Regions from separate parts of the Homo sapiens genome. Here regions 2 and 3 are each linked to region 1. The links come from fine-mapping of genetic effects on gene expression. A gene starts in region 1. Each other region holds a variant in brackets. All regions are shown on one strand. Distances are from middle to middle.

The links.
Region 2: its variant is fine-mapped to the expression of LACTB in left ventricle (GTEx, PIP above 0.99).
Region 3: its variant is fine-mapped to the expression of LACTB in whole blood (INTERVAL, PIP above 0.99).

What each region holds. Positions count from the first base shown.
Region 1 is chr15:63,115,821-63,126,343 of GRCh38, reverse strand. LACTB (lactamase beta) reads right to left here and starts at 4,483. Exons shown (of 6, transcript NM_032857.5): 1 at 4,116-4,483; 2 at 3,642-3,708. The coding sequence starts at 4,472. LOC107984798 (a long non-coding RNA gene) reads left to right here and starts at 4,577. Exons shown (of 2, transcript XR_001751584.1): 1 at 4,577-5,604. RefSeq lists silencers at 3,725-3,914, 3,925-3,994, 4,015-4,594.
Region 2 is chr15:63,172,790-63,183,312 of GRCh38, reverse strand. LOC101928972 (a long non-coding RNA gene) reads left to right here. Exons shown (of 4, transcript XR_932355.4): 3 at 2,624-2,704; 4 at 4,998-5,246. Among named protein-coding and RNA genes, the nearest start is that of RAB8B, 12 kb to the left of the region's middle. The variant C/A (reference allele first, on the strand shown) is at 4,694.
Region 3 is chr15:63,139,596-63,150,118 of GRCh38, reverse strand. LACTB (lactamase beta) reads right to left here. Exons shown (of 6, transcript NM_032857.5): 6 at 8,058-8,839. The coding sequence ends at 8,314. It overlaps RPS27L (ribosomal protein S27 like), which reads left to right. Exons shown (of 4, transcript NM_015920.4): 4 at 1-1,870. Among named protein-coding and RNA genes, the nearest start is that of RPS27L, 13 kb to the left of the region's middle. The variant T/C (reference allele first, on the strand shown) is at 5,656.

The sequences.
Region 1 (10,523 bases):
ATGGTAAAACCCCGTCTCTACTAAAAATACAAAAATTGGCCAGTCATGGTGGCGTGTGCCTGTAATCCCAGCTACTCGGGAGGCTGAGGCAGGAGAATCGCTTGAACCTTGGAGGCAGAGGTTGCGGTGAGCTGAGAAAACGCCACTGCACTCCAGCCAGGGCGACAAAGTGAAACTGTCTCAAAAATGTGTGAAAAGATGTCCTGCAAACCAAATCTAGCTAACCATCAATTTAATTCGACTGCAAACCAGGAGGAAAATTATGTACTAACTTAAAGCTTTTTCTAGAAAAAATTTTAAATTTGGTTTCCATGTTCTCACAGGCTGAAAGTGCGTAAATCTAACTAAGAAAGAGAAAGTGCCTGCAATCCCAGCACTTTGGGAGGCGGAGACGGGTGGATTACTTGAGCTCAGGATTTCGAGACTAGCCTGAGCAACATGGCAGAAACCGCATCTCTACAAAATATACAAAAAAAAAAAAGAAAGAAAGAAAGAAAAAAGCCTGGCGTGGTGGAGTGCACCTGTAGTCTCAGCTAGTCAGGAGGCTGAGGTGGGAGAATCATCTGAGCCCAGGAGTTTGAGATTGCAGTGAGCCAAGATCACACCACTGCACGCCAGCCTGGGAGACACAGTAAGAGACCCTGTCCAAAAAATAAATAAATAAATAAATAAAAAGAGAACAGAGATCTGAAAAGAAAAGGAATACAATGACTATAAATTTGTATAATCTTAAATATCTAAAAAATATTTGCATAAAGTCCATAAAGCTGACATTTATATAATTTTTGATTACAAGACTTATCATAAATTAGGTATAATGATTAGATTATACTTATACTTGAAGGAAGAATCATTTTCCTTTTTTAAAAAATTTTAAGCTGGGCACGGTGGCTCACGCCTGTAATCCCAGCACTTTGGGATGCCGAGGCAGGCGCATCACCTGAGGTCGGGAGTTCGAGACCAGCCTGACCAACATGGAGAATCCCCGTCTCTACTTAAAATACAAAAATTAGCCAGGCGTGGTGGTGCATGCCTGTAATCCCAGCTAATCGGGAGGACGAGGCAGGAGAATCACTTGAACCTGGGAGGTGGAGGTTGTGGTGAGCTGAGATCGCACTATTGCACTCCAGCCTGGGCAACAAGAGTGAAACTCCAAAAAAAAAATAAATAAATAAAATTTTTTTTATAGAGACACAGGTGTCGCTATGGTGCCTAAGCTGGTCTCAAACTTCTGGTCTTCAGCCATCCTTCCTCCCTGGACTCCCTAAGCGCTGGGATTACAGGCGTGCGCCACCTCAACTGGCCCATTTTTCTTCAAATTCAAACCCCTACTGCGCCCATCAACTTACTGCCTTTAAATGGCATATGAAACATTTTTTTTTCTTTTTTTTTGAGACAGAGTCTCGCTGTTGCCCAGGCTGGAGTGCAGTGAACGATCTTGGCTCACTGCAAACCTCCGCCTCCCGAGTTCAAGCGATTCTCGTATCCTGGCCTCCCGAGTAGCTGAGATTACAGGCACGCACTAGCATGGCTGGCTAATTTTTTGTGTTTTTAGTAGAGATGGGGTTTTGCCACGTTGTCCAGGCTGGTCTCGAACTCCTAAGCTCAGGCAACCCACCTGCCTCTGCCTCTCAAAGTGCTAGGATTACAGGCGTGAGCCACTGCACCTGGCCTGAAACATCATTTTCTAAAAGTGGGACTCCTAGAAACCTAGGATGACCAATTAGATCAATTTCTGTGCAACAGAGAAGTTATGAAAAATAATGCCTTGATAAAAGTATCATAAAATGAATAGAAATCCCTCTCCCTAAGTTTTTTGCCTTCTGTTTGAAAAAAATAGATGACACCTCTACCTGGTTAAAAAGCCTAATAAAGTAGACTGAAAAGTCATTAAAGACAAGGAATAGTGTGTGGGCGGCAAGCCACCCAGGCGCTGAGGCAAGAGACCGAGGACACGAGCTGTTCCAGTATAATAAAATATAAAACAAGAATAGTTATACCAGATATAGATCTTAGATATGATTATATATATCATTAATCTTATTAGTTTGTAGCAATTAGTCTTTATTCCAATATTATAATAATCCTTGCTCTATAATCATAGCCAAGGAAAAACCAGGCCATACAGAGATAGGAGCTGAGGGGACACAGTGAGGAGTGACCAGAAGACAAGACTGCGAGCGTTCTGTTACGCCCAGACAGGGCCACCAGAAGGACTCCTTGGTCTAGCGGTAACGCCAGCATCTAGGAAGACGCCCGTTGCCAGCCGGACCGTGGTCTAGCGGTAGCGAAGAGCGTCAAGAAAAAACACCCGCTACTTAGTAGAACCAGAAAGGGAGTCTCCTTTTCTCCGGGGGAGTTTAGAGAAGACTCTGCTCCTCCACCTCTTGTGGAGGGCCTGACATCAGTCAGGCTTGCCCGCAGTTATCCGGAGGCCTAACCGTCTCCCTGTGATGCTGTGCTTCAGTGGTCACGCTCCTAGTCCGCCTTCATGTTCCATCCTGTACACCTGGCTCTGCCTTCTAGATAGCAGTAGTCAATTAGTGAAAGTACTAAAAGTCTCTGATATGCAGAAATAATGGCATAAGCTGTCTTTCCCTCTGTCTCCTCTCCCTCTCTGCCTCGGCTGCCAGGCAGGGAAGGGCCCCCTGTCCAGTGGACACGTGACCCACGTGACCTTACCTATCATTGGAGATGACCCACACTCTTTACCCTGCCCCTTTTGCTTTGTATCCAATAAATAACAGCGCAGCCAGACATTCGGGGCCACTACCGGTCTCCGCGCATTGGTGGTAGCGGTCCCCCGGGCCCAGCTGTCTTTTCTTTTATCTCTTTGTCTTGTGTCTTTATTTCTACACTCTCTCGTCGCCGCACACAGGGAGAGACCCACCGACCCTGTGGGGCTGGTCCCTACAATAGTGTATAACCCCAGTACTTAGCACTTTGCTTTTTACGGAAGAGAGGCCTCAAGAAATTGTTAACTTAATTAAAAAAGAAAACTTCACAAATTCTGAGTTTTATCTACCCATAAGTGTTACCTGCAAGTACTCAGTTAATGGATTGTTCTACACAGTAGTTACCCCTTATCTGTGGTTTCGCTTTCCTCAGTTTCAGTTATCCATGGTCCGAAAGTATTAAATGGAAAATTCCAGAAATAAACAATTCGTAAGCTTTAAATTGCATGCCACTCAGAGTATTGTTGTGATTGTTCTATTTTATTATTGTTGCTAATCTCTTACTATGCCTGATTTATAAACTTTATCATAGATATGTATATATAAGATAAAATATAGTATATACAGGGTTCAATATCATCCACTTTTTCAGGCATCCACTGAGGGTCTTGGAATATATCCCCAGGATAAGGAGGGACTACTGTATAAAACTTTCAGACTAATAAATCCAGTCCTAAGAGAAAAGTGGGAGTGGGTAGCCATCCTCATGACTCCAATTTATTAGTCACATTTTAAACCTTACCGTGATTTAAAAACACCTGACTCTTTATTATGTTAGATGTTTTCTCTACAATATGCATCGTTTTATGTAAATGCAATAGCATTTCATGGGATCCACTCTAACCAGTAAAACAATATTTTATTTACCAACTGGCACAGAACAAAACAACAATTTTCTGAACCCACCTTCTGACCAGACTTCTTTTCCATCTACAGAAACTCCAACCACTATGCCCGGTGCGCCCACCTCATCCTAAGACCGAAGGGGAAAGAACCGACAGTTACGGGCCTGCTGAAAAAGCCCAGCGCTCTCCTCGGGGACCTTCCAAGGCCCCGCCCCCTGAGCCTGGGCCCCGCCCCCTCCACCTGGGCCCCGCCCACCTCGTCCCAGGCCATGGTCACTCACTAACAGCAAGGGATGTGCCTGTCCGCCCCCTAGGGGGAAGGGGCGGTCCCCGAGACAGGCGGTGACCTCCACCCAGATTTGGGGAACCCCCAAGAGCGTCTGACCACGGCTCGGCGGTGGGGAAATGGGAAGTCTTTCTCGGAAGCCGATCGCGGGCACCCCGCCGCCCCGGGTGGGGTCCACTCAGCCCCCGACAGCACCGCCGACAGGGGTGGATCCCCGGCCCCCTACGCCCCCCGCTCCAGTGGCCGCACCTTGATCCTGTGCAGCAGGTCGCGGCTGCTCTCGATGGCTCTGGCGAAGCACCTGGAGCAGGGCGGCGCCGGGGTCTGCGGAGACCACGGGGCGAGGGACTGCTCCTGTGGCGGCTCGGCCAGAGGCGACGCCTCAGGGTCGGGGGCCGCGGGGGACTGCGCCGGGGCCGCGCCCCTCAGCCCACCTGCCAGCTTCACCCCGAGCGCCAGCCCCAGCCCCAGCCCGAGGCCCCCGACCCAGCCGTGGCCGAGAGGCGGCAGCCCGGCGCGCTGATGGACCCCGCGTCGTCCGCAGCTTGAGGCCAAGCCCCCGGGGGCGGCAGCCCGGGCAGTCACTGCTGACATGAGCCGGTACATGGCGTCTCTGCACAGCCGGCCGCCACCAAACTCACGCACACCCTGCCAGCCGCGGCGCGGGGCGGAGGGAAGGGCAGGGGGCGGGACGGGGGTGGGGACCGCGGTCAGACCCTAGCAGTCGACGCCTGACTACCCGAGCGCCGATCGCATCGAGCCCTTCTTCCTCTCCCTTTTCTTGTCTCTTCCTTGTTTTTCCTTTCTGTCTCTCTTTCCTTTTTTTCCTTTGCTTACCCTCAGATCAAGCGTCACCTCCCAGAAGCCTTCCTAGTTCCCGTCCCATGGGAGTTCTCGCCCTTACCATCTTGCCCCTCAGTGTGCACACTTCTTTAACAACAGTTAACACTTTGTATCATTTAACTACTTGTCAGATTCCTTACCAGAGTGGGACTTCTTTGGGGAGCCTAGACTTAGTTTTGGATCCTCAACTTCTGGAACAGCGCAGGGCACACAGTAGACGCTCAGCAGGCATCTCCTTTCCCTTTAGAGATGCCTTTCTCCTTTCCTTTCCCTTTCTCCTTTCCCCCTTTAGAACGCGCTTCTTTTCACTCTCTTGCCATCTCCCTTATGTCTCATTTCAATTCACCCATTTCCCTAAAGATGTTTTAAAATCTATTGCTTCTGGAATTCTAGCTCCACACCGTACCAAAGACATGAAGTTACATCCAGACCTTATATTACCTTTCTTTTGCTATAAAAGATAAAGTGTTTTTTAAAAATTTCGTGCTTGAAAAATTTTAATCCAAAAGTAACTATTATAATTTACAATTACCTATGATTTCTCAGCATCTGTAAATGATCAGACATTCTTGTGAAATAAGAAACCTAATCTCAAATTGCTACAAAATGTAAAATGTGTATAAAATCCTAGTTTAACGTGTAATGAAATTGATATGTTAATTTGAAGTTACTTAAACATTTATCAGTTTTGTAATTTTTATATTTTGGGATACATACATACACACACACACACACACACACACACACACAATCTTTGAAAGCTTGTAGGCTTTATACCTTCAGCACTGGGGCAATATGCCCCATATACAAAATGGCCCTGTCTTTTCTTGCAGGTGGAATAAAGAAGAGAGCTCACAGACTTGAACTGACAAGCCATCAGGACAAACATATTGAGGTAATAAACTTACTGAGTAAACATATACATACCTCAAAATAAATATATTGAGGTAATAATTATTTAATAGGAGGAAAAGGCAATAATGGTATCCATACCTAGCAAGAAAATAGTGGGGCTAAATAAGTAAAGCTTCTGGGGCTACTCACAAAACCCAAGACTCCAAGAGACCAGAATATCCTAGGACCCAGAGCGTTTGACACTGAAACTGCAGTTATAGTGGACAGATGTACTCTATTAAGATAGTACTGGAGGTTCCCACGGTGGGGGTCACCACTACTCCAAGAACATGAGAGAAAAAATATAAAGAGAAAAATGTAAAAGACGCAGTCAGTGGTGGTTATGAGTGCCCACTTTTATTTAAACTGTACATAATTTTTCTTTAAACTGTACATATGTTACTGAAACACCAAGGGTTTAGCCTAGATCCCATTGCTCGCCACACAGAAAGCCAGTCACCAAGACAATGAGTATCGCCGGGGGAAAACAAAGCTTTTTCAGGTGCTGCAGCCAGGGAAACGGGAGTTCAGTCTCAAGTCCATTTCCTCAGCTAACTAAAATTAGGGGTTTATATAGCAAGGAAGAAATGTAACTATGTGTGGGGAAACAGGAAATAGGGAGGGATAAGGAAGAAGAATTGTTCAACAGGAAGCAGGTGGTTGGTTAGGCCGGGGGTCCCAACCCCTGGGCCATGGACTAGTTAGGAACTGGGCCACACAGCAGGAGGTGAGTGGCAGGTGAGGGAGCATTATTGCCTGAGCTCCACCTCCTGTCAGATCAGTCATGACCTTAGATGCTCATAGGAGCTCGAACCCTATTGTGAACTGCGCATGTGAGGGATCTAGGTTGCTTGCTCCTTATGATAATCTAACTAATGCCTGATGATCTGAGGTGGAACAGTTTCATCCTGAAACCATACCCATCAGCCCCAACCCCACACCCCATGGAAAAACTTTCTTCCATGAAACCTGTCCCTGGTGCCAAAAAAGCTGGGAACCGCTGGGTTAGGCAATCATGACAGGTGAAGGATCTGGTGTCTCATTGTCCAAATGTGGTGATCTGGTAAGTTTCAGTTTCTTGATACTATCTGGGAGACCTGATGGTTGGTTTCCTCCAAAAGGAACTCAGATAAGACAAATGTAAGTTTCTCAAGTTTTAAGACTGGGCAGGTCAATTTTCTCTCTTTATTCAAAATAAACCATAAACATATTCTATTGGACAATTGGGCTGGTTTCACATATGTGTTTTTTGCACTCTTCTGTACCTCTCCTTGGATAAAAAATAAAAAAAGAAACAGAGCCCTGTGTTTGCCATGTACAGGGCAAAAGCCAATGTCCTGGTGGACTTCCAGTCTAGAAGCAGGTACAGAGAGGCCATTTGAAGTATGGCTTCTGGGAAGTGTTAACCTAAAAGGAAGAGGCTGAGGCACAAAATATAATTTAAAGACTTTACTTTAGCCAAAGTGAGGACAGCTGCCCTGAAGACTCAGACCCAAGGAAACTTGGAATGAGCTCCCCATTAAGGGGAGCTCCCCTGTCCTCCTTTGCCTTTAAAGGCAAAAAAAGGGGGACAGGGAATGGGCTGATACAAAGTTGTTTGTCAGGGATCCCCATTGGTTTACAGAAATAACAATGATTGGCTATATACATTGTTAAGCAACAGGGTATGGGTTCTAGCGTCTGGTGCCCCATTATTAGGTTAATTTATAACTACTCGTGGCAACAGCAAGCAGTTTCAAGAGATGAATACATAGCTTATTGTGGGGGTAGGACATGAATGCCATCTCTTTTTTTTTTTTTTTTTTTTTAAGATAAGGTCTCACTCTGTTGCCCTGGCTGGAGTGCAGTGGCGTGATCATGGCTCATTGCAGCCCCAACCTCCCAGGCTCAGGTGATCCTCCCACCTTAGCCTCTTGAGTAGCTAGGACCACAGGCATGCACCACCACACCTGGCTAATTTTTGTATTTTTTTTAGAGATGGGCTTTCGCCATGTTGCCCAGGTTGATCTCAAACACCTGGGCTTAAGCGATCCTCCCACCTCGACCTCCCAAAGTGCTGGGATTACAGGTGTGAGCCACAATACTCAGCCACCATCTCATTTTAATGTCTCCCTGGGCCTGATAATTTGAAAGGACTTGCATTCTTCACATAAAAGTTATTTTCTTTTCTCAGAAGGTAACAGAAAATAAATTGTTCTCCAGCAAGCTGAGTGCCCAGGAGGCAACCTGACCAAGCAGCCTGCAGACTTGTTGGCAGGATCTTTACTACAACTCTAGGGCAGGAGCCCAGAGCCCCAGCATTTGAGCTGGCTTTGGGGTGGGAGCCGCAGAGACCAGATAGAAGAAAGGTAAACAGGCCAGGCGCGGTGGCTCACTCCTGTAATCCCAGCACTTTTGGAGGCTGAGGCAGGTGGATCACGAGGTTAAGAGATCAAGACCAGCCTGGCCAACATGGTGAAACCCCGTCTCTACTAAAAATACAAAAATTAGCTGGGCATGGTGGCACATACTTGTAGTCCCAGCTACTCGGGAGGCCGAGGCAGGAGAATCACTGGAACCCGGGAGGCGGAGGTTGCAGTGAGCTGAAATCACGCCACTGCACTGCAGCCTAGATGACAGAGCGAGACTTTGTCTCAAAAAAAAAAATAAATAAAAAAGGTAAATGACTACACATGGAGAAGAATGGGAAGAGAGAAAAAAAGTGAGGAAAAGGGGAAGGAAAGAAACTTTCCACTAAAAATAAATCTGCAAACCAAGTTTCCAAAACATATTTTTAAAAGTTTTCTAAAAAACACTGACAATAAAATCAACCACCAAATTGTGAAATCACCCCAAACAAAATAAAATCAGTAGAAGGATATACAGGAAAAGAGGAAAAAGAGAGGCCTTTCCCTGGCTAAGAAAAAGATGGGTGATAGAAAATAAAACAAATATATATATTTTAAAACAAATATATATTTTTAAATATATATTTTTATATATTGAAATATATAAAACAAGTATATATAAAATATTTTTTATATATTTGTGTATTTATATATTTTATATATTTGTTGAAAATATATATAAAAGATAAATAAATGTATAATATCTACACAACAAAAAAGGAATTACAAAACAAAATAGGAATAAATGAAGCAAAACCATATAAATATGAAAATGCACTTATCAGAAATTGGGGAAATAAAAGATCATGAGAGAACTTTAATATCATCTCTTCTGAAGCTGGAGCTACAGTTTTGATGGACTGCTGTAACTGCGTCCAAAGCTTGTACTGCTCACCACACAACAGCCAATCAGTCAAGAGACAGGCGTTGGAGCAGGGAAGATGACTTTATTCTGTGGAGCCAGCAAACCAAGATGGCAGACTACTGTCCTAAAGAAGCATCTTAAGTAAATGTGAATGTTGGGCTCCTTTTATGTTAGGGGAGGGGGAAAACGGGAAGAGGCTTAGGTCAAAAGGTGACCAGTGACCACAGACATCTGGGTGGCAGCAAGGGTAAGCTTCTTTGTCTTTGTCAGGTCACAGTGCTCTTACAAATTTTTAACATAACATTGTTACTTATGTGTATACCCATCTTATCTCCTTGGGGGTTAGTTTTGGGGAGGGACTAATCATCCTTGCTTTAAAGTTAAACTATAGGCTGGGCACGGTGGCTCACACCCAGCAATCTAGGAGGCCAAGGTGGGAGGATTGCTTGAGCCCAGGAGTTTGAGACCAGCCCTGGCAACATAGTGAGACCCGTTCTCTACAGAAAATTTTAAAAAATTAGCCGGGCATGGTGGCCTGTGACTACCAGCTACTTGGGAGGCTGAGGTGGAAGGACTGCTGACCCTGGGAGGTCGAGGCTGCAGTGAGCTGTGATCATGCCTCTGAACTCCAGCCTGGGTGACAGAGCGAGACCCTGTCTCAGGAAAACAAAACAAAATACTGAGTGGGACTCAGACAGAAACCACTGGTACACCAATAGAAACTTCTGTCCAACAACTCAGAATAGACATAGTCCCAGCCCTCCTGGAACTTGCAGTCTATACGGTAATAGAGTCATGATAAACAGAACGGCAAGATTAAATGTAAAATCCTAGTTGTAATGAGTGCTGTGAAGGAGAGGTGCATACTGTGTTGAGAGGTTATAATGTGAGATGTTATCTGATCTGGGAGATGAAGGAAGACTTTCCTAATGAAATGAAATTACATCCAAGACTTTAAGGATAAACAGGAATTACCTTGGTTAAGTATGGGCAGAAAGAGAAGGGAAGTGTTCCATGCAAGGAATTAGCAAATGCTAAGGCCTTGTGGTGGGAAGAGGCGGTTTCATTCAAGGAATTAAAAGATAGTCATGGGCCAGGTGTGGTGGCTCATGCCTGTAATCCCAGCACTGTGGGAGGCCAAGGCAGGCAGATCACCTGAAGTCAGGAGTTCAAGACCAGCCTGGACAACATGGCGAAACCCCATCTCTACTAAAAATACAAAAATTAGCCAGGTGTGGTAGTGTGCACCTGTAATTCCAGCTACTAGGGAGGCTGAGGCAGGAGAATCACTTGGTCCTAGGAGGCAGAGGTTGCAATGAGCTGAGATTGTGCCACTGCACTCCAGCCTGGGCAACAGAGTGAGACCCCGTCTCAAAAAAAAAAAAAAAGATAGTCATGGTGGGTGGAGTAGAGAACTAAGGGGCGTGAGGTAAGAGATGAGGCTGAGGACTGACCATCCAGTACCTTATCTCCTTCTGCTGCTATTTCTTTAGAAGAAGGAATGCTCTTCTACAGCTGCTTCTAGCCACAAGTCCTGTCCTACTATATCTCAGTATAGTGTATACTATTAACCACATTAACAAGCTAAAAAAGAAAAATCACATGATCATATCAATTGATGCAGACATATCAATCATTAGGCAAAACACATTCATGACCGAAAAAACC
Region 2 (10,523 bases), 57 kb before region 1:
TAAACTAGAATTATCAGATATAAGCCTAGTGACAGGTGAGACTTAATCTAGTAGCTCAAATTACATGCCCAGTTCTTGGCTTCTCTTTGTCAGCATCTTAGCAACACGTCTTCAAGATAGCACTTATTTCAATAGGCTAGCCCCATGTGGTTGCAAAATGTCTTCCTGAAACTCCTAGGGCTCCTTGCTTCCAGATTCAAACAGAGCAGAATGTAGAGAATCCTTTTCCCCAAAAGTTCAAATAAATACCCAGGAATTGAGTTCCATGGGCCTTGACTGCCCTTCCCTGAACCTATGCAGGGCCCAAGAGAGTGGCCTCTGTCAACTGATGTAAGCCACTGGGACTGGGTGTAGAGTCAGCCTCACCCTAAACACAGGGTTCTATTAGTGAAGACTGGAGAAGATAAGGCTGGGAAACAAATGAGCACCATCTGTGTTTACGTGTCAAATGCACATGGATATTTGTTTGCTTGTTTTTGAGACTGAGTCTCATTGTATTGTCCAGGCTGGAGTGTAATGGCACGATCTCGGCTCACTGCAACCTCTGCCTCCCGGGTTCAAGCAATTCTCATGCCTCAGCCTCCTGAGTAGCTAGGATTTCAGGCACATGCCACCACACCTGGCTAATTTTTGTGTGTTTAGTAGAGACAGAGTTTCACCGTATTCATCAGGCTGGTCTCGAACTCCTGACCTCTGGTGATCCGCCCACCTCGGCCACCCAAAGTGCTGGGATTACAGGTGTGAGCCACGATGCTTGGCCATCACATGGATATTTGTGTCAAGTACTACCAAGTGATTGATTACATTGGAGAAATCACAGAACTGAATCCAGAAAAAGTGTGATTTGTCATTCTCTAAACAGATGGGTTGATGCTTAACTGGGAAGAAGGAAATATGGCCTCCTTGAGGAGGGAATGGGTAACCCAAAGCCAGAATTAACCAAAGCACTTTGACACCTGGCCCCTTTTCTGCGCTACTTCAGGAATCAGCTGACGGTATAAAGCCCATTTTGGCAGCAAAGACTTTAAAATGGGCTTTATACCCTTAAATGGTTCCTGAAGCAAACTTTCTAATTATTCTATCAGGCTCTGACAAATCTGTCCTGGGACTTTGTTATTGTCAAAAGGACTGAACTTAGCATCAGATGACCTGAGTTCTGTTTCCCCTCTGCTACTAAATAGTTCTGTGACCTTAAACAAGCACAGCATTTCTGTGCCTCAGTTTCCTTAACTGTAAAATGGGAGGAACTGAATGAAATCATCCATTCCCATCTGTAAAATCCTTTGAGCTCTTGAATCCAGGCCCCGATAACAGATGTCCTGAGACCTGGAAGTTCTGATCTTTCACACAATAGTCTCCCAAGCCACCCAAACACCCTGGTGAATCAGGGGATTTATCAGCAACCTCAGAGGTCTTGTGAGTCCCATTGAGGCTATGTAGGGTGTGGAGCCGGGAAAGGAGCCCAAGATACTTAGTTCCTTGTTCTAAACAACATTCAATTCACCCTTATGACTCAGTTATCATTGCTTCTCTCTTTCCAAGGAGCACCAAGTTTCAGTCCTGAGATAGCAACAATGATTTGTTGGGTTGCCAAATTACTGGGTTAAGAGAAAAATGAAATTCTGCATTATTCTGAGCCAACTCCAATCAGATTTCTTCCTGCAATTCCTACTTAATATGAATAATCATAATCATTTCCCGAATAACCTTAAACATAGACATGTATATATATTTAGAGGCAGGGTCTCACAATGTTCCATAGGCTGGAGTGCATGGCTATTCACAGGCACGATCATAGCTCACTGTAACTTCAAACTCCGGAGCTCAAGTGATCCTCCTGCCTCGGCCTCCTGAGTAGCTAGGACTACAGGTGCACACTACTGCACCTGGCTCTGACTTTTTTTTTTTTCCTGGTTTAACAGCAGCAAGGGATTATAAACAGAGTTAATCAGGGAACATGTTGAATTGCTCCAGAACCTGTGATAAAACACCCTCTCCCTTTGTGAAATTCCTTGCTCTCACTGGTTCAGACAGAACTGAAGAGTTAATATGAAATCAAGCAGGATTCTTTGATTATTCACTTTTAAAATTACAAGCATAAATGATGATGATAACCTAATAGAATGCTGAATAAATAAGGCTGAATAGGTGATTCTTTTGGGCCAGGTTGAATATTCAGATTAAGAGAAACTGCGAATGAAATCCCAATCACATAGTAATTTCCCACCTATTGCTTTCTGAAACTCAAGTAGCTATATGGTCTAATTAGGCTGTTTGGGGGATTATCACATTTTATTTCTGCAATGAATGGCATCATTTGGGGTTTAATATTTATTGAGGCTTTTATGAAACAGAGAGGTTTCCATATGTCTCTAGAGCAAAACATTTGTGTTTGCCATCTGCTACTCAAGAGTAGTTTTGTAGAAAAAGAACGCAAATTGCTTGCTTCTTTAATTACTTTGGGGCTAGGCTATACTATAGTTGGGACTGTGGAAAAGCCAGTGGAATTAACTGCTGAGAGAATACCATTGTTTACTTAGCCACCAACTTAAATAATTTTTTGCAAGTAAACTGCATAAAAAGAGATTAAAGCCTAAAATTATTTTTGTTCTTTTAACTCAAGGCAAAGACCAAGTGAAGAGATGTGTGAGATTTTTTTCGAGCTGGCAAAAAGGAGACCCTATCCAGGAGACTAGGCTTTAAGGTCAGTATAGAAAGTATCAGATCTCTTTTTCAAGATCTGACGCCAACTGAATCTGTGACTTATACTTAGTACTTAAAAAAAAAAAAAAAAAATCAGAGGATCTCCTTGAGCCCAGTATCAAAAAAATTAATTTACTTTTCATCACCAGGAGCTAATTACTTGGGCTCTGGACTCCATACTGTTTGTTTCTGCTTTCCCTCTTCTCAGTGGCTTCTTGAATTGTGTATAAGTCTCTATTCAGTAACACCTCCACTAGCCTGTAGACAGTCATCATTAGAAAATATAGTATTTCTAATCACTTTTGCTTAATCAGGAGTCACTTCAACCAACAGGGCTCACCCAAAAGTGGAAACTCTGGGGCTTAGGAATTGTCTGTGGATTTCAATTGCTGATGCTTTTTCTAGCTTTCCTCACAGTAAAATTGTATCCATCAAGGTTATGAGAATACAAATGTAAGAAATTGACAGATGAAAGGGACCTAGTCTGCCCAGTGACTAACTGAGATCCTTGACAGGCTACCTAACCTCAATGGACCTCTGACTTCTAAGACTACTTCTTGCTTTAAGAGGCCATAAAAACCTGCCGGGCGCTGTAGCTCACGCCTGTAATCCCAGTACTTTGGGAGGCCAAGGCAGGCGGATCACGAGGTCAGGAGATTGAGACCATCCAGGCCAACATGGTGAAACTCCGTCTCTACTAAAAATACAAAAATTAGCTGGGCGTGATGGTGCGTGCCTGTAATCCCGGCTACTCGGGAGGCTGAGGCAGGAGAATCGCTTGAACCAGGGAGTTGGAAGTTGCAGTGAGCTGATATCACGCCACAGCACTCCAGCCTGGCAACAGAGCGAGACTCCGTCTCAAAAAAAGAGGCCATAAAAACCAATGTCTAGGCCGGGTGCGGTGGCTCACACCTGTAATCCCAGCACTTCGGGAGGCTGAGGTGGGCAGATCACGAGGTCAGGAGTTCGACACCAGCCTGGCCAACGGGGAGAAACCCCGTCTCTACTAAAAATACAAAAATTAGCCGGGCGTGGTGGCGGGTGCCTGTAATCCCAGCTAGTCAGGAGGCTGAGGCAGCAGAATTGCTTGAACCCAGAGGCAGAGGTTGCAGTGAGCCGAGATTGCGCCACTGCACTCCAGCCTGGTGACAGGGCGAAACTCCATCTCGAGAAAAAACAAAACAAAAATCCAATGACTATAGAGATGTATTCCAGGGTTTCTCAAAATGTGTACCTCAGAACGCTAAGTGAGTCAGCAGATGCTAGCAGGTGATACAAGAAGAAAAGATTTCAGGGCTAAGCTTTTTGAGAAATGCTGCTATCAGTTGTTTAGATGGTGCGGCTTCTCTGACGTCAGTATGCAGAGGCGCAGCTGTGAGTCTCCACCGCAAGGTGTGGCACACGGCTTTTCCCACACTCCATTCTGATGGCGCATCTTATGGGGCTTGTGTCCTCAGACTGTATGTTAGGAAACTCATTTAATCCAAACCCTTTTTTTTGCTTGTTTGTTCGTTTTTTGTTTTTGTTTTTTTGAGACAGAGTCTCACTCTATCGCCCAGGCTGGAGTGCAGTGGCGCCATCTCGGCTCACTGCAGCCTCTGCCTCCTGGGTTCCGGCGATTCTCCTGCCTGAGCCTCCCGAGTAGCTGGGACTACAGGCGCCCGCCACCACACCTGGCTAATTTTTTGTATTTTTAGTAGAGATGGGTTTCACCATATTGGCCAGGCTGGTCTTGAACTCCTGACTTCAGGTGATCCACCCGCCTTGGCCTCCCAAAGTGCTGGTATTACAGGCGTGAGAGCCACCGCACTCGGCCCTTATTTTTATTTTTATTTTTTTTAAATTTATTTATTTTGAGACAGGGTCTCTCTCTGTCACCCAGCTTGGAGTGCAGTGGCATGATCTTGGCTCACTGCAACCTCTACCTCCCAGGCTCAAGGTATCCTCTCACCTCGGCTCAAGGTATCCTCTCACCTGGGCTCAAGGTATC[C/A]TCTCACGTCGGCTCAAGGTATCCTCTCACCTCGGCTCAAGGTATCCTTCCACCTCAGCTGGGACCACAGGCCCGCACCACCACGCCCAGCTAATTTTTATATTTTTTTGGTAGAGATGGGGTTTCACCATGTTGCCTCGGCTGGTCTCAGACTCCTTGCCTGAAGTGATCTACCTGCCTCGGGCTCACAAAGTGCTGAGATTAGAGGCTAAGCCACCCCTCGAAACCTAACCCCTTAGTTTTAGATATGAAAACACTAAATAGCAAAGTCCTACTATCAAGTTGAAAATCAGCATGTTTACAGGAAGCTGTGAGGAAAGACGGCAGCATCCATTCCCAGAATTCCTGACAGACTGGACTGAGAACACCCGTCCCTGCTCCCAGGCTTCTCCTGAGTCCCAGGGCAGGGCTCCCTGCTGCCGCCTCTGTCACTGTCAGATCCACAGAAAGATCAGAGAAGAGGGTGGGGCGCTGTGATGGCTCTCTCTCCTCCACACCTGGGGAAGCTGCTTCACCCTCAAGCTCTGGGGGACTGGCAGATGTTGTACTAACCTGAAATTAAAATCATCTGTGCAGAAGCATATTTACCCAGAATTCTGAATGAACATTCTGTATATTGTGTTTTTGAGAAAAAGACTAATGTCAAGTAATTAAACTAACTGGCATTTTTTGCTTTGTATTGTTCTGTATTTTGAATGAATTATAGGCTAGGTTAGAGGGTCATATCACACCCAGGCTAATTTCCCACATTGACATTTAAAGTGCTGTAAAAATGATCTGCACAATGAAGTGTTTTTACAGAGAAATTATTTGAATTTCTTGAGGGCATGAATTATATTTACATTGTATCCCTAATGACTGACTAACACAGGCTTGGCATATATTAGCCACATAGTGACAAATATGTTTGCATTAATTAGTAAATTACAATCTAATGAGCAGGTTTTAATAAAATTAAATAATGGTAATAATTCACTCACAGCACTAATGGAATCCTACCTTTTCAGATTAATTGACTTATCATGGTCAAGGACCATGAATTCTGGTTAAGGCTTATTAACAGAGGCTATTTGACAGTTTTCACTTGTAATCTCTTGGTTTCATAAACATGTTTCATTCAGGTGATAATAAATGAGATCATTTCTATATTTGACTCTTCAATACATACACACAGAATTGGAATGAGCTGGTAGTTATCAAGTCCTATCTTCCAGGCACTGCAGAATTCCCCTTTCAACCACTTGGTCTGTGTTTAAACATCCCCATAGATAACACACATAATAACAACCTTGAAGAAATGTGTGATCCTGGAGGGCCTTCTGAGTCATCACAGGATTAAGTCATGTTAGTAAATGATAGTTTGTGTTCTATAGTTTCATTCAACAAAAGCTCTTTTAGCACCTACAATATATAAAGCAACTTACTAGATACCATAAGAGGAATAAAGATGAACTGACACAGACCACTCCGTAAGAAGCACATGGCCTTCATGGGAGGTGGGACCCACACTTAAATAGTTAAAATACTAGGTAGAATTATGATATACTGGTAATGTACTGTGGTGCTAGTTTATAGTTCTTTTTTTTTTTTTTTGACAGAGTCTCACTCTGTCGCCCAGGCTGGAGTGCAGTGGTGCAATCTCCGCTCACTCCAACTTCTGCCTCCCAGGTTCAAGCAATTCTCCTGCCTCAACCTCCCAAGTAGCTGGGATTACAGGAGCGCGCCACCACGCCTGGCTAATTTTTTTATTATTTTGTGGAAATGGGGTTTCACCATGTTGACCAGGCTGGTCTTGAACTCCTGACCTCAAGTGATCCACCCGTCTCGGCCTCCCAAAGTGCTGGGATTACAGGCATAAACCACTGCGCGCAGCCTTATAGTTATTTCAAAACTAGTTTATATTTATTTAGACACTGGTAGTCTATAATTAAGTGGATTACCCAGTGTATTAGAACACCTAATTCCCTAACTATTGTTGATACATGGAAGGTTACCACACTCAGTATCAATGACATTGGGTTTTACTAGCAATCAACAGCATCACCTAAGAGCAATGCTCTTGGGTGAACCATCCCAGCAAGGTCTTGCTGACCAGCGTTGAGTCACCTACTTTAGACCCACAATTCACCTTAAATGGATGAGCAAGGAGGATGAATCAAGATGACATGGGAACCTGAACTGCATTGAGCGAGGTTTCAGGGATGCCTTCGGGAAGCTGGATGCTTGTACAGGCTGCAATATAGACCAAGTTGCCAAGTGACAACCAAAAATGGGATTAGTCAGGGAATAAAAATTGTCCCTAGCTTTCCAGAATGGCTCTATCTGAACAGATAGTGGATCTGTTGGGGAGAAGGTGAAGGGGGTAGGAAAAGAACCTGCCTGTTTACACCCCAGAAGTGACCACCACCTACTAGTCTGAACCAACTTTTAAATTCTGATTTGGGCTCTGTTTCTACCTCCATATGAAAAGCGAAAAAATTTAAAGGAAGCCGGGTGTGGTGGCTCATGCCTGTAATCCCAGCACTTTGGGAGGCCAAGGCTCTTGGATCACCTGAGGTCAGGAGTTCGTGACTAGCCTGGCCAACCTGTCTCTATTAAAAATACAAAAATTAGCTGGGCATGGGCGCCTGTAATCCCAGCTACTTGGGAGGCTAAGGCAGGAGAATCACTTGAACCCCCTGGGAGGCGGAGGTTGCGGTGAGCCAAGATCGTGCCATTGCACTCCAGCCTGGGCGACAGAGCGAGACTCCGTCTCAAAAACAGAATAAAACAAAACAAAAACTTTAAGGAAATTAAATTATATAACCAACCTCCAAAGATCATTAAGGAATGTATCCTTCATATATTATGAACAGTATTGTTGGAGAAAGTTGAACTAACCCTCGCCTGAGCCGAGAATCCAGAATTCAATGCTGTTAACGTTTGAACACACAACAACGAATTTGCATCCAAATAAACATTGTACACATTTCCTTACATCTTTTGCCTTGAGAATTTGGTGATGAAAATACTTTTTACATGTGGACATATTTCCCTTAATATTAAATGTTGTAAATTATTATGCAAAACTGAGATATGGGGGAACAATAAGGAAGCTCATAATTTTAGCTTCTTTGCATCTCAAAGCCAGGACTGTGATCATGACCCTGATTCTGAAGGAAATGATGTGGACAGAAGCTGTTTTGTCTGACAGCTCCTCACAACCTTGACTGACCCAAGCAACCCCCACAAAAAGCAATGCCCAGCAGTCCAGGGAATCAAGCTTCTCTTCCACCCCCTTGGTCCATTCTGGGGAGGCAGCAGCAGTGGCACTGACCTTAGGATCATCCTCTAGAGTTTTGATGTCTGGTTTTGTATGGGAGTGCAACCTTAGCAGTAAAATATTTACTTATGGAGCTCATTCATTTGTTCTCTGGCCCTTATACCTACTGGAGATAATGCCTACTGCCCAGAATAAGTAAGTTATTTATTGGAGGTAGCAGATAAAATATTGAAACAGCTCATGCCTTTGTGTTGTATAGTTGAGGTAGAAATAATGGTACCCAGATTTGTGCAGACTCTATTAACTCACATCTTTGGCTTATTTATTATTTGGCCAGATATGATTTGCTCTTAGGTCTTGGCAAGAGGGGCCTCTTCCCCTGGGGCCCACTGTGTAGAGAGCCCTATGCTACCCTTGTTCTCTTCTGGTCAGTCCTCTCCACTGGGCAAGGAGTTTACAGGCTAAGTGGATTTACTCACCCAGAGCCATGCCATCTTTTTAGGCTACATTCCAGGTACCCAGAACTCAGGATTCCCTGCCAATGGCCCTGCTTCCAGGATTGGTATGGGCCTCTTCTCCTGATCGATCTTTCTTTCTTTCTTTTTCTTCTTTTTTTATTTTTTGGAGACGGAGTCTCGCTCTGTCACCCAGGCTGGAGTACAGTGGTGTGATCTCAGCTCACTGCAACCTCCACCTCCGGGGTTCAAGCAATTCTCCTGCCTCAACCTCCCAAGTAGCTTGGATTACAGGCACACATGGCCACGCCCGGCTAATTTTTTGTATTTTAATAGAGACAGGGTTTCACCGTGTTGCCCAGGCTGGTCTTGAACTCCTGAGCTGAGGCAATCCACTCATCTCGGCCTCCCGAAGTGCTAGGATTACAGGCATGAGCCACCGTGCTCGGCCTTTTTTATTTATTTTTTATTTGAAACTGAATCTTGCTCTGTTGCTCAGGCTGGAGTGCAGTGGCGCAATCTCAGCTCACTGCAAGCTCCACCTCCAGGGTTCAAGTGATTCTCCTGCCTCAGCCTCTCGAGTAGTTGGGATTATAGGCACCTACTACCATGCCCAGCTAATTTTTGTATTTTTAGTAAAGACGGGTTTTCACCATGTTGGCCAGGCTGGTCTCAAACTCCTGACCTCAAGTGAGCCTCCCAAAGTACTGGGACTACAGGTGTGAGCCACTGCACCCAGCCCTGATCTATCCTTCTGAGGGTGGACTGTACAATTGGGCCATAGCCCCAAGTGGCCACCAAAAGGGGGTGATGATATGGCCAGCGCTTGGACATATGGGCTGGAATCCACATCGTGTGTGTGTGAGGCCCTTCATGATGTGGGCCCAATTTGAGGGGTGAAGGAAGGGCACTGTTCTGGGCCAGGGCTGCTCTCCTGGGCCACCACGTTTTGGTATGGACCTCTAAGGAGCTGAAATATTCTAAATTCAAACCAATTATCTGCATCATTGTAAAGGTATATCTGTCAAGGTAGGAAACCCAAGTTTGTTAGCTTTGGCTAGAATTTTTAAATATTTAGACATATGATATGTTGGTTTTCATTTTCATTCTTGCTCCATGCCCCACAAAATGGGGCCTGTCCTTGGAATGTGTTTGATTTTGAGTGTGTTTAAAATTCTAATATAAAGGCTCTGGTAAGTGGTTGGAGTGTGGGTAATGGGTGGGCCACTTTGCCACCAGGTCAAACAGAGCATTGCTGCCAACCAGCGCTCCAACTACGTTCCAACATCCTTCTGCTCCCTGACCCAACAAGGGAAACTGTGTGTGTGTGTGTGTGTGTATGTGTGTGTGCGTGTGCGCATGTGTGTGTGTGTGCTTGCGCGCGCATGTGTGTAATATCCACTGAGAATCAGGAAAACATGACCTGGCTGTGCTCACATCATCCAAACCTCACACTGATGTTCTGTTCTAGATCGCCACGGCTGCTCTGCCAAGCTTCTCTTCCCACTTGGCTTCCTTTAGCTGCTCAGAGTTAGGAGCTAGGCATTTTGAAGTCCTCCTCCAGGAGAAGAAGAATGAACTAGAAAGGGAATCATGCCAGGCTTCCTTGATTGAACCCCACTTCACTTCAGCAAATCCTTAAGCCTTTCTGTCTGTTTTGTCAGCTGTAAAATAAGCAGACTAATTCAGCTCTACCTCAGAGGGCAATGAGTGGCAGGTTTAATTAATGCTGATTGTGATGGGCTTTGTAATGTAAAGTTGTATATAAATGAAAAAGAGCTTTAGAGCCATTTTATCCAAAGTCAGCTAAGTTTGGAGTGCATCCTGCTTTCCACTGCTATGGTTAAGCCTCTGAGTCCTGATCACAGACTGCTGCAGACAACAGAGGAGCAGGAAGGCACAGTTGGCTCACATTGCCTGAACAGAAAGCAGGGCTTAGCAATGGCAGTGGGGGGGCAGAGCATGTAATCAACGCACATCTCAGATGTCTGCATGGCAGGCAGCTCCAAAATTCACTGGGTCCAGCTGGTGGCAGATGATGGGCTGGTTTTTGCAATCAAAGTACAAAGAACAAGGTGTATCCGTTTATTCCTGGGACTGTTCTGGAGAGATC
Region 3 (10,523 bases), 24 kb before region 1:
GATAGATACTTAGAGTGTTTTCACTTTTTATTTATTTATTTTTGAGATGGAGTCTTGCTCTGTTCCCTAGGTGGAGTGCAGTGGCGTGATCTCAGCTCACTGCAACCTCCTCCACCTCCCAGGCTTGAGTGACCCTCTGGCCTCAGCCTCCCGAGTAGCTGGAACTACAGGCACGTGCCACCACACCCCGCTAATTTTTTGTATTTTTTGTAGAGATGGGGTTTCGCCATGTTGCCCAGGCTGGTCTTGAACTCCTTGCCTCAGGCCATCCGCCCACCTCAGCCTCCCAAAGTGCTGGCATTACAGGTGTGAGCCACTGCATCCGGCCAAATAAAGTATTCTTAATGACATCTGCAAAATCCATTTTGCTATGTAAGGTAACATATTCGTAGGTTCTGGGGATTAGGGTGTGGGAATCTTTAGAGGGCCATTATTCTGCTACCACAGAATATAAAGTTGTAAAATTCTACCCCATATTTGGAAACTGAGATTCTTAAATTATGTCTTTGTAATTCTCTTTTTTCTTTTTCTTTCTTTTTTTTTTTTTTTTTTGAGACGGAGTCTTGCTCCGTCGCCCAGGCTGAAGTGCAGTGGCGCAATCTCAGTTCACCGCAAGCTCCTCCTCCTGGGTTCACGCCATTCTCCTGCCTCAGCCTCCAGAGTACCTGAGACTACAGGCGTGTGCCACCACGCCGGGCTAATTTTTTTAAAGTATTTTTAGTAGAGATGGGGTTTCACCGTGTTAGCCAGGATGGTCTCGATCTGCTGACCTCGTGATCCGCCTGCCTCGGCCTCTCATGTCTTCGTAATTTTCCATGGAAAAAAACTTAAATCTTTGGAAGGAATAGAGTACATTATTGCATTTTACAAAGAAAAGGATAACTTTTATAGAATAATGACCTTGTATTCTTTTAGGATTTTACAGCTACTTTTTCACAACTATAGGCATAGAAAATGACATCAGGGGCCGGGCGCGGTGGCTCACGCCTGTAATCCCAACACTTTGGGAGGCCCAGGCGGCGGATCACGAGGTCGAGATTGAGACCATCCTGGCCAACATGATGAAACCGCGTCTCTGCTAAAAATACAAAAATTAGCTGGGCGTGGTGTCGGGCGCCTGTAGTCCCAGCTACTCGGGAGGCTGAGGCAGGAGAATTGCTTGAACCTGGGAGGCGGAGCTTGCAGTGAGCCCAGATCGTACCACTGCACTCCAGCCTGGGCGACAGAGCAAGACTGTCTCAGAAAAAAAAAAAAAAAAAAAAAAAAGAAATGACATCAGGTCATGGTGTTTGCTATTGATCGACACTTAAATAGCCTTTGAATTTTGTTTCAAAGGAGATGCCAGAATTGCAAATTTTCTCTGCTGATTTGTGTCCTACTGATTCTGGCTCGCTTTCCCCCTACACTACTAGGGCTACTCTCACTTTCACACCTAGCAAAACTTCACCTTTCAAAGAATTTAGGCAGAATAGTCCTAATTTAGTTAATAAGCTTTCATTTTAAATCTTAGGGAAGCAGTGTTAGTTTCAGTTATTCTATAGGAACAGAAATTGGAGCTGCCACAGCCTTTTGAACCAGAGCCCGGCAGACCCTCAGCTTCAGCCCTGCTCAGTGTTTTGTGTCTATGAAAGTCTTTTTAATTTTCTCATTACACATTTTATATATCATGCTATGTATTTAGAACAGAGGGGTTGTGTAAGATTATGACTCTATGTTCTTTATCTTGTCTTTGTATTAATTTGAAGTTGTGTTTTTTCTTTATTTGTAGCCAACTAATTAAAATACCAACATATTTATTTTTATTCATTTTTATGTGACAAACTTTTAAACTGAAGACTGCATCAATAAAATTGCATGCCATTAAATATGACTTTTATTGGATTGGTAAATTTTTAGAGATGCCTTTTTTTTTTTTTTAGACAGAGTCTTGCTTTGTTGCCCAAGCTAGAGAGTGCAGCGATGCGATCTCGCCTCACTGCAACCTCTGCCTCCTGGGCTCAAGTGATCCTCCCGCCTCATTCTCCCAAGTAGCTGGGACTACAGGCCCATGCCACCATACCTGGTTTATTTTTGTATTTTTTGTAGAGACAGGGTTTCACCATGTTGCCCAGGCTGGTCTCAACTTCTGGGCTCAAGTGGTCCGCCCATCTCAGCCTTCCAGAGCGTTGGGAATACAGGTGTGAGCTACTGCGTTGGCCTAGAGATGCTTTTTATGGGAAGTCACGATAATGGTTAAAACAGGCTTTAGAGTCAGATATGTGTGGGTTTGAAACAAGTGCTAGTTAATGGTTTGTGACCTTGTGAAAAAATAATAATATTTCTACTTAATAGAGTTATGTTGAAGGTATAATGAGATAGCATATACAAAGAGCTTAGCAAAATGCCTTCCCCACAGTAAGTGCTCTGTTAATAGTTTGTGTGGGCCAGGCGCGATGGCTCACGTCTGTAATCTCAGCATTTTGGGAGGTCAAGGCGGGTGGATCAACTGAGGTCAGGAGTTTGAGACCAGCCTGACCAATACGATGAAACCCCGTCTGTACTAAAAATACGAAAATTAGCCGGGCGTGGCATGTGCCGGTAGTTCCAGCTACTCAGGAGGCTGAAGCAGGAGAATCACTTGAACCTGGGAGGTGGAGGTTGCAGTGAGCCGAGAACGCGCCATTGTACTCCAGCTTGGGCAACAAGAGCGAAACTGTGTCTTAAAAAAAAAAAAATAGTTTGTGTGGTATTTTTTTTTAAGTGGAAAGCAGTCATGTCTATTCAACATCAAGTACTTTAATGTTCCATTTTTTCCCTAAAGTGATTTACCCACCTTACCACCACACTGGAGCATAGATATGTTAACTTTTGCTACAAAACAAGTCACCCCCAAATCTAATAGCTTAAAATGTTGACTTATTACTATTTCTCATGAGTATATGAGTTGGCTGCTTACTCTGTTGGTCTCATCTAGGTTCACTTACACAGCCACCTTCACCTGGAGGCTCAAATCATAGGTCTGGCAGCTGGTGCTAGCTGTCAGCTGGGGCATCTCTGTTCCCCTCCACATGGTCCCCCATCCTTCAGTAAGCTAGTCTGGCTTCTTTACATGGCAATCTTGGGGTAGTGTTCTTAGAAGGTGGCAGACAAAAGCTTGAAAGCCACTTAAAGCCTATGCAGTGGGACTTGTGCAACATTATTTCCACCACATTCAGTGGGTCAAAAAGCAAATCATAAAGCAAGACCAGATTCAAGAGAGTGGAGAAAGAGCTCCACCTTTGGATGGAAAAAGCAGCAAAATCACATTGCAAAGTTGCATGCACAATGGAATGAGAGGAAATCGTGGCCATCAAAGAATTGGTGGTCGGGCACGGTAGCTCATGCCTGTAATCCCAGCACTTTGAGAGGCTGAGGCAGGAGGATTGCTTGAGTCCAGGAGTTCAAGATCAGCCTGGACAATATTGTGAAACCCCTACTCTACAAAAAATTATCCAGGCATAGTGGAGTGCACCTGCATTTCTAGCTACTCAGGAAGCTGAGGTGGGAAGATCACCTGAGGCTGGAAGGTCAAGGCTGCAGTGAACCATGATTGTACCACTGCATTCCAGCCTGGGTGACAGAGTGAGACCCTATCTCTAAATAAATAAATAAATAAAAATAAAAGAAAATTCCAAATGGGGGCCCAGGCATGGTGGTTCATGCCTGTAATCCCAGCACTTTGGAAGGCCAAGGTGGGCGGATCACTTGAGCCCAGGTTACAGTGAGTTACGATCATGTCACTGCACTCTAGCCTGGGTGCCAGAGCAAGATTCTGTTTCTAAAAAATAAATAAATTCCAAATAACATAAAACACTAACATTAAAGAAACATTAAACATTTAATGTTAAAATAACATTAAAGAAAGGCATGACATTTTTATGTTTATCTAAGGGCACGGATTGAAAACTTGACAAACATGAATACAGGACCTAGAGATCAGAAGTCAGAAAGAAATAAGGAGATGAAATGGATCTGTTTTAGAGAGCTGCTCTCTTTCTACTTCAACCAACTCAGAGATATCCATCTATTTACTTGTATAAAGTGTTAAGGGAAGAAACAGATTTAGGGCTCAGAATTATAGAAAAGCCCTTCCTTTATTAGGGTGTATAAAAACTTTGATTTCTTTTTGAATTTTCCTGAGTTCAGTGGCACACTGGTAATCTCTAGTACACATGATCTGTGGCTGTTAGAACAAAATTCCCCAATACGTTAACACTGCAGCCTCCAAAATGGCTCCCAATGATCCCAACCTTCTGGTATCCACTCCTTTCTACAGTCCTCTCCCACACCAAATCAGGGTTGGTTTCTGTAACCAACAGAATTTGGCATAAGTGATGGCATATGGCTTCCAAGGCTGATTTATAAAAGACATTGAGGTGTTTCCCTGTTTCTTCAATCGCCTGCTCTAAAGGGAAGCCATAGCACAGACAAGCAGACCTATGGAGAGGGCCATGTGGTGAGAAACTGAAAACTCTTGCCCAAAGCCAGCAAGCCACAAAGACCTCTTGCCCATGGCCACGTGGGTGAATCATTTTGGAATCAGATTATCCAGCCCCAGTCAAGCCTTCCCTCAGATGCCTGAAGCCCCTGCTGACATCTTGTCTACAAACTCATGAGACCCTGAGCTAGAAACACCCAGCAAAGCTGCCCCCAAATTTCTGAAACACAAACTGTGAGACAATAAGCTTTGGGGTAATTTGTTATGCAGTAATAGATAACTAATACACATTATACTACAGGAAAAAGCTCAAGACACAGAAGGCCAGATATGGTGTGATTCCATTTATATGAAACATCCGTAACAGGCAAATCCAAAGAGATAGAAAGTAGATTGCTGGTTACCAGGGGCTGGAAGGACAGAGGAATGGGGAGCAAATGCTAATGGGTATGAGGTTTCTTCTTGGGGTGAAAATGAATTGGATAGTGGTAATGGGTACATAATCTCGTGACTATACTAAAAACCACTGAATTGTACACGTTAAAGAATTTTATGGCATATGGACTGTGAATTATATCTAAATTACGTGTGTGTGTGTATGTGTGTATGTATTTGGAACAGAGCAGCGGATGGAAGTTGGAAGGACTTTAAGGAAAGTGTTAATGAAAACCTGAAGAGCCTTGAAGAAATTGTTGAGAAGTATGGCCTTTGAAGAGGCTGCAGGTGTAGTCTTAAGGAAAGTAAGAGAAATCTTATTGGCAATTAGAGGAAGGGATTCTTGTTTAGTACTGACAGAAAATTTAGCAACACTGTCGCCAGGAGTAACTCAGAAAACAGAAAATGTGCCTAATGAATTGGGTGACTAGCTGATGGGATTTCCATATGCAGTGTTTTTTTTTTTTTGTTGTTGTTTTTTGTTTTTTTGTTTTGAGGCTGGGTAATTTATAAAAAGAGGTTTATTTGGCTCACGGTTCTGCAGGCTGGACAGGAAGCATGGTGCTGGCATGTGCTTCTGGTGAGGGCCTCAGGAAGCTTACAACCATGGCGGAAAGAGAAGGGGGAGCCCGGATGTCACAGGGCAAGAGAAGGAGCAGAGAGCCATACACAGTGTTGAATGTGCTTCCTTAATTCTTGTTGCTTATACTAACATGCAAGAGAAAGATAAGCTAATGGAAGAACTATTGGTAAAGAATTAATAA[T/C]TGATGGTTTAAAAAATTCCCAGACTCTTCAGATTGCAAATGATGCCAAAATTAAGAAATGGCTTCAAGGCAAAGATAATAATTGAGGGCACTTCCAGGAAAACATAGTCTAAAGATGATATTGAGGGCATGACTATACAATCCTTTCTCAAGACTTCAAAATGAATCAACATGGTGCTTCAGAGAACTATTTAAACAATAGAGTTCATTAGATTATTAGCGTAATTAGTTCTTCCCATTATCTTGGCAGAGACAAGCCCCAAGTTAGAGAGGGGATATTCTGAAGGGACTTTGGGGTGGCTTTTGTCTACTGGCATAAACCCCAATAAAATTCACAGGATACTCTTAACATTTTAAAATATTATATTGTCAGTTAATAGGGTTGCTAAAAAAAATTCAAAAATTAGAGAAATAAAATATTATATTGGCAGAACCACTGTTAACTTAGATGGAAAGGAAAGAGAGTATAAAAAGGCCTTTGGGTCTCCAAACTTCTACAAGTGGAAAGCACACTGAGAAAACCACTCAGCTAGAAAGATACGCTACCTTTCATGAAAAAAAGGTATGGGGAAGCGGCCAGGCTTAGTGGCTCACGCCTGTAATCCCAGCACTTTGGGAGGCCGAGGGGGGCGGATCACCTGAGGTCAGGAGTTCGAGACCAGCCTGGCCAACATGGTGAAACGCTGTCTCTACTAAAAATACAAAAATTAGTCGGGAGTGGTGGCACGCACCTGTAATCCCAGCTACTCGAGAGGCTGAGGTGGGAGAATTGCTTGAACCCAGGAGGCTAAGGCTGCAGTGAGCCGAGATTGTGCCACTGTACTCCAGCCTGGGTGACAGAGGGAAACCCTGTCTCAAAAAAAAAAAAAAAAAAGTAAAAAAGAACAATTAAAAAAAGTATAACTCAGGGGCTGGGTGCGGTGGCTCATGCCTATAATCCCAGCACTTTGGGAGGCTGAGGTGGGTGGATCACTTGAGCCCAGTAGTTGAAGACCAGCCTGGGAAATATGGTGAACAGCTGTCTCTTAAAAAAAAGAAAAAGTATAACTCGTAAGGTAGAACTAAGAGCCCAGAGAACATAGCCAAGAACTAAGAATTATTCTGAAGCCTTGAATACTAATCAGAGTTGCCAACCTCTGTCTGACTGAATTTCAGAATTGCCAGTCTCCTGTATGTCTTCCACTTCCCTACTTTTTGAAGAGGACGGTATCTAGCAATTATCCTATATCTGCTGTGCTACGGTATGTTACACATATGGGGAGCAAATAACTACAGTTCACAGGTCTTAAGAGAAACTACTTGAGTTGCTGTACCTAAGGAACTCATCCCAAGGAGCCCTCATTCACACTTGCACCTGACCTGATTTAGATGATAAGATACTGGGCTTTGAGCTGATGCTATATTAAGGTGAAACTTCTGGAGGATTTGAAAGGAGGTAAGAGTATTTTGCATTGGGAAGGACATAAATCATTGGGGACCAGAGGTCAGACTGTGGTACCCAACTTCCAAGTTGACACCCAGTGATTCCTGCCTCCTAATATTCACAATGTATATAATCTCTTCAACATTTATTAGGCCCCATGTAACCCATGGAATTTGGCAAATGTGATGGTATGTGACTTGAGGCTAGTTTATAAAAGAGTGACTTCTGCCTGGCACTCTCTGTCTCATCACTTACTCTGCGGGAAGCCAACTACCATAAGATACTCAAGCAGCCCTACAGAGAGGTCCATGTGGTGACAAACTGAGTCCCCTTGCCACCCACCAGCCAGAGAACTGACTCTTGCCAGCAGTCATGCAAGTAAGCCATGTGGAAGCATTTCCTCCAGCCCTGGAGAATTCTTCAGATGATCATAACACCTTGTCTGCAACCTCATTAGAGACCGCGCCAGACCCACGTGACTATATTGCTCCTGATTTCCCGATTCCTTCTCTGAACGTTTCTTTTAAGCTGTAGTGGATAACTAATATACCATTTCTCATGCTTTTGTTTCTGCTCTCATATTAAAAGGATATTTGGGCTGGGCACAGTGTCTCACGCCTGTAATCCCCAGCACTTTGGCAGGCTGAGGCGGATGGATCACCTGAGATCAAGAGTTCGAGACCAGCCTGGCCAACATGGCGAAATGCTGTCTCTATTAAAAATTCAAAAAGTGGCTGGGCATGGTGGTGGGTGCCTGTAATCCCAGCTACTTGGGAGGCTGAGGCAGGAGAATCGCTTGAACTCAGGAAGCAGAGGTTGTGGTGAGCCAAGATCACACCACTGCACTCCAGGCTGGGTAACACAGCAAGAGTCCATTTCAAAAAAAAAAAAAAAAAAAAAAGAAAAGAAAAAAAACCTCGGATATTTGGAGGCTCCTGTTGAATGAGATTTTCTCTGTATTACACATGCAGAAAGTACATATTTTATCAGAATATTTTATTTCAAGAGTTAACACTTTTTTCAAAAAGTAAAAACAATATAATTACTTCCCTGAGTATAAAGAACCAATTCTACAATAAAAGACCATTACAAAATTAAGCAATTAGAGGTACATAATTCTCTGCATTCAGTTATACTCTATTTCAAATTTATTCTTAAAAATGTCATGTTTTGGAACTTTAATGTTTCAAAAAAACCTCAGAACAACTCATTTTGCACCTATGGTGTTAAGGTTATCAGTCTGATCTGTCTTTATCAAATTCAAGGGCAATCTTCAAAGCGGTGCTATTGAGGCCAACAGATTGCATGTTACATATGATAGAAACAATGATTCCTCTTGGGGGAACCTTGTTATTTATAGTCTCTGTATCCAGTTCTTCAGGAAGGACCAGCAGGACACTACTGGCACCCACTGCCCCTCCAGTATGTGAAGCATAATGCCGTTGCTTTCTACACGAACCATACGTTTGTTTCCTTTCCACAACACCCCACGCCATTGCATATTTACCCTCTTTATCCCAAGACATCTCTGTGTTAGGGACTGGGGTCCACATCATAACCATTGTTTCTGGTTTGAGGTATCCAGGTAAAAGATTTTCATTTGAGTTCTTAAACAGCCCAACTTGGTAACCATAAAGCATTGCATTCCCAAATTTCAGAAGGTCACCCACTGTAGACAGAAATCCACCACCAGCCCATTTATAGGAGTTATCCACGTAAGGTGTGTTGACAAGACGTTTCTTTTTATTGTAAACATAAAATCTAAAAGGAAATAAGAAATGATCATGAAAAATTTCATAGTCACTGGCTTCACACATGATGATAGAAAAATGTATACATGAGAGAGATTGTATTTCAATGTAATGATCATACATTCTCAGAAACTATAAACTAACCACTAATTTTCAGTATGATTCAGGTCCTAATGACACACAGATAACTAAGTAAGATAGTCTAATTACCTTTTGAATTAAAGCATAGAAAGTGGTTTTTTTCTATTGGTATGGCTTGTCCATGCTGAGTGTATCAAACCTTTAATACCTGCAAAAATGTATTGGTTAATATTACACATGACATATTTGCCCTGTGCATATGGAGAAAGTTATCATTTGGTAGATATTCCTTGTCCTTGGGGTTAATGTTGCATCGTGCCACAAATGAATTTTATAACCAAAACTGTAAACATCCAAAGCACTTTGGGATGTTTAGGAATAAGGTTATTTGTAAGATGACTAGATTTCTTGGATAAAAATACCATATAAGCTGGGTGCAGCAGCTGGTGCCTGTAATCCCAGCAACTCAGGAGGCTAAGGCAGGAGGATCACTTGAGCCCAGGAGTTTGAGTCCAGCCTGGGCAGCAAAGCAAGACCCTATCTAAAAAAAAATTCTAAACAAAATACCATATACATATCATATATAATGATGTGACATGGTAGTTTCTTGGTGCAGTGGGAAAGGCTGGAGTTAGCAAACCCTAGTTTGAATCCTTTCTTCTTTTTTCAAGATTCTTATACGTCCCCTAAAAGTACAAGTCATAATATTGAGTGAAGTAGGGTTGGCAGTTAGGAAATGAGTGGCCACAGGTATGTGTCTGAAGATTTTAAAAAAGAGGTGGTTTTCTCATTGTCTCAAAATCAACATGTCTGTCATGTTTCTCTCCATTAAAACCTTCATTATACAACTTTTAATGACTTTCTTGCCCTAAACTCTCACATCCAGTAAGATGCTAAATCCTATTTATTCAATCTCTGCTTTGTGTCTTACCCTTCTCCCTTCCTTCTATTCCTATGACAACTCTCAAATTTTAGGCCCTCATTACTTTGTGTCAACTCCTGATTATATTTGTAATTCCAGCCAACCAAATAAAATTAAATCTAAAAGTTACATAATAGAAACACATTTTTTCATTGAGAAATAAATTTCTACTTTTCTTTTGAGACAGAGTCTTGCACTATTGCCTAGGCTGGACTGCAGCGGTACAATCATGGCTAACTGTAGCCTCAACCTCCAGGGCTCAAGCAATCTTCCTGCCTCAGCCTCTTGAGCAGCTGGGACCACAGGTGTGTACCACCATACCTGGCTAAGATTTTTTTTTTTTTTTTTTTTTGGTAGAGATGAAGGTCTCACTGTTGTCCAGCCTGGTCTCGAACTCCTGGCCTCAAGCAATCCACTCGCCTCTGCCTCCCAAAGTGCTGGGATTACAGGCATGAGCCACTGTGCCCAGCCAATAATCAGCTTTCTGTAACTTCTTTTTTTTGAGACAGAGTCTTGCTCTGTTGACCAGGCTGCAGTTTGGTTCTCCTGCCTCAGCCTCCCCAGTAGCTGGGATTACACGTGCTGCCACCATGCCCAGCTAATTTTTTTCTGTATATTTACTTATTTATTTTTGAGACAGACTTTCACTCTTATCGCCTAGGCTGGAGTGCAATGGCGCGATCTTGGCTCA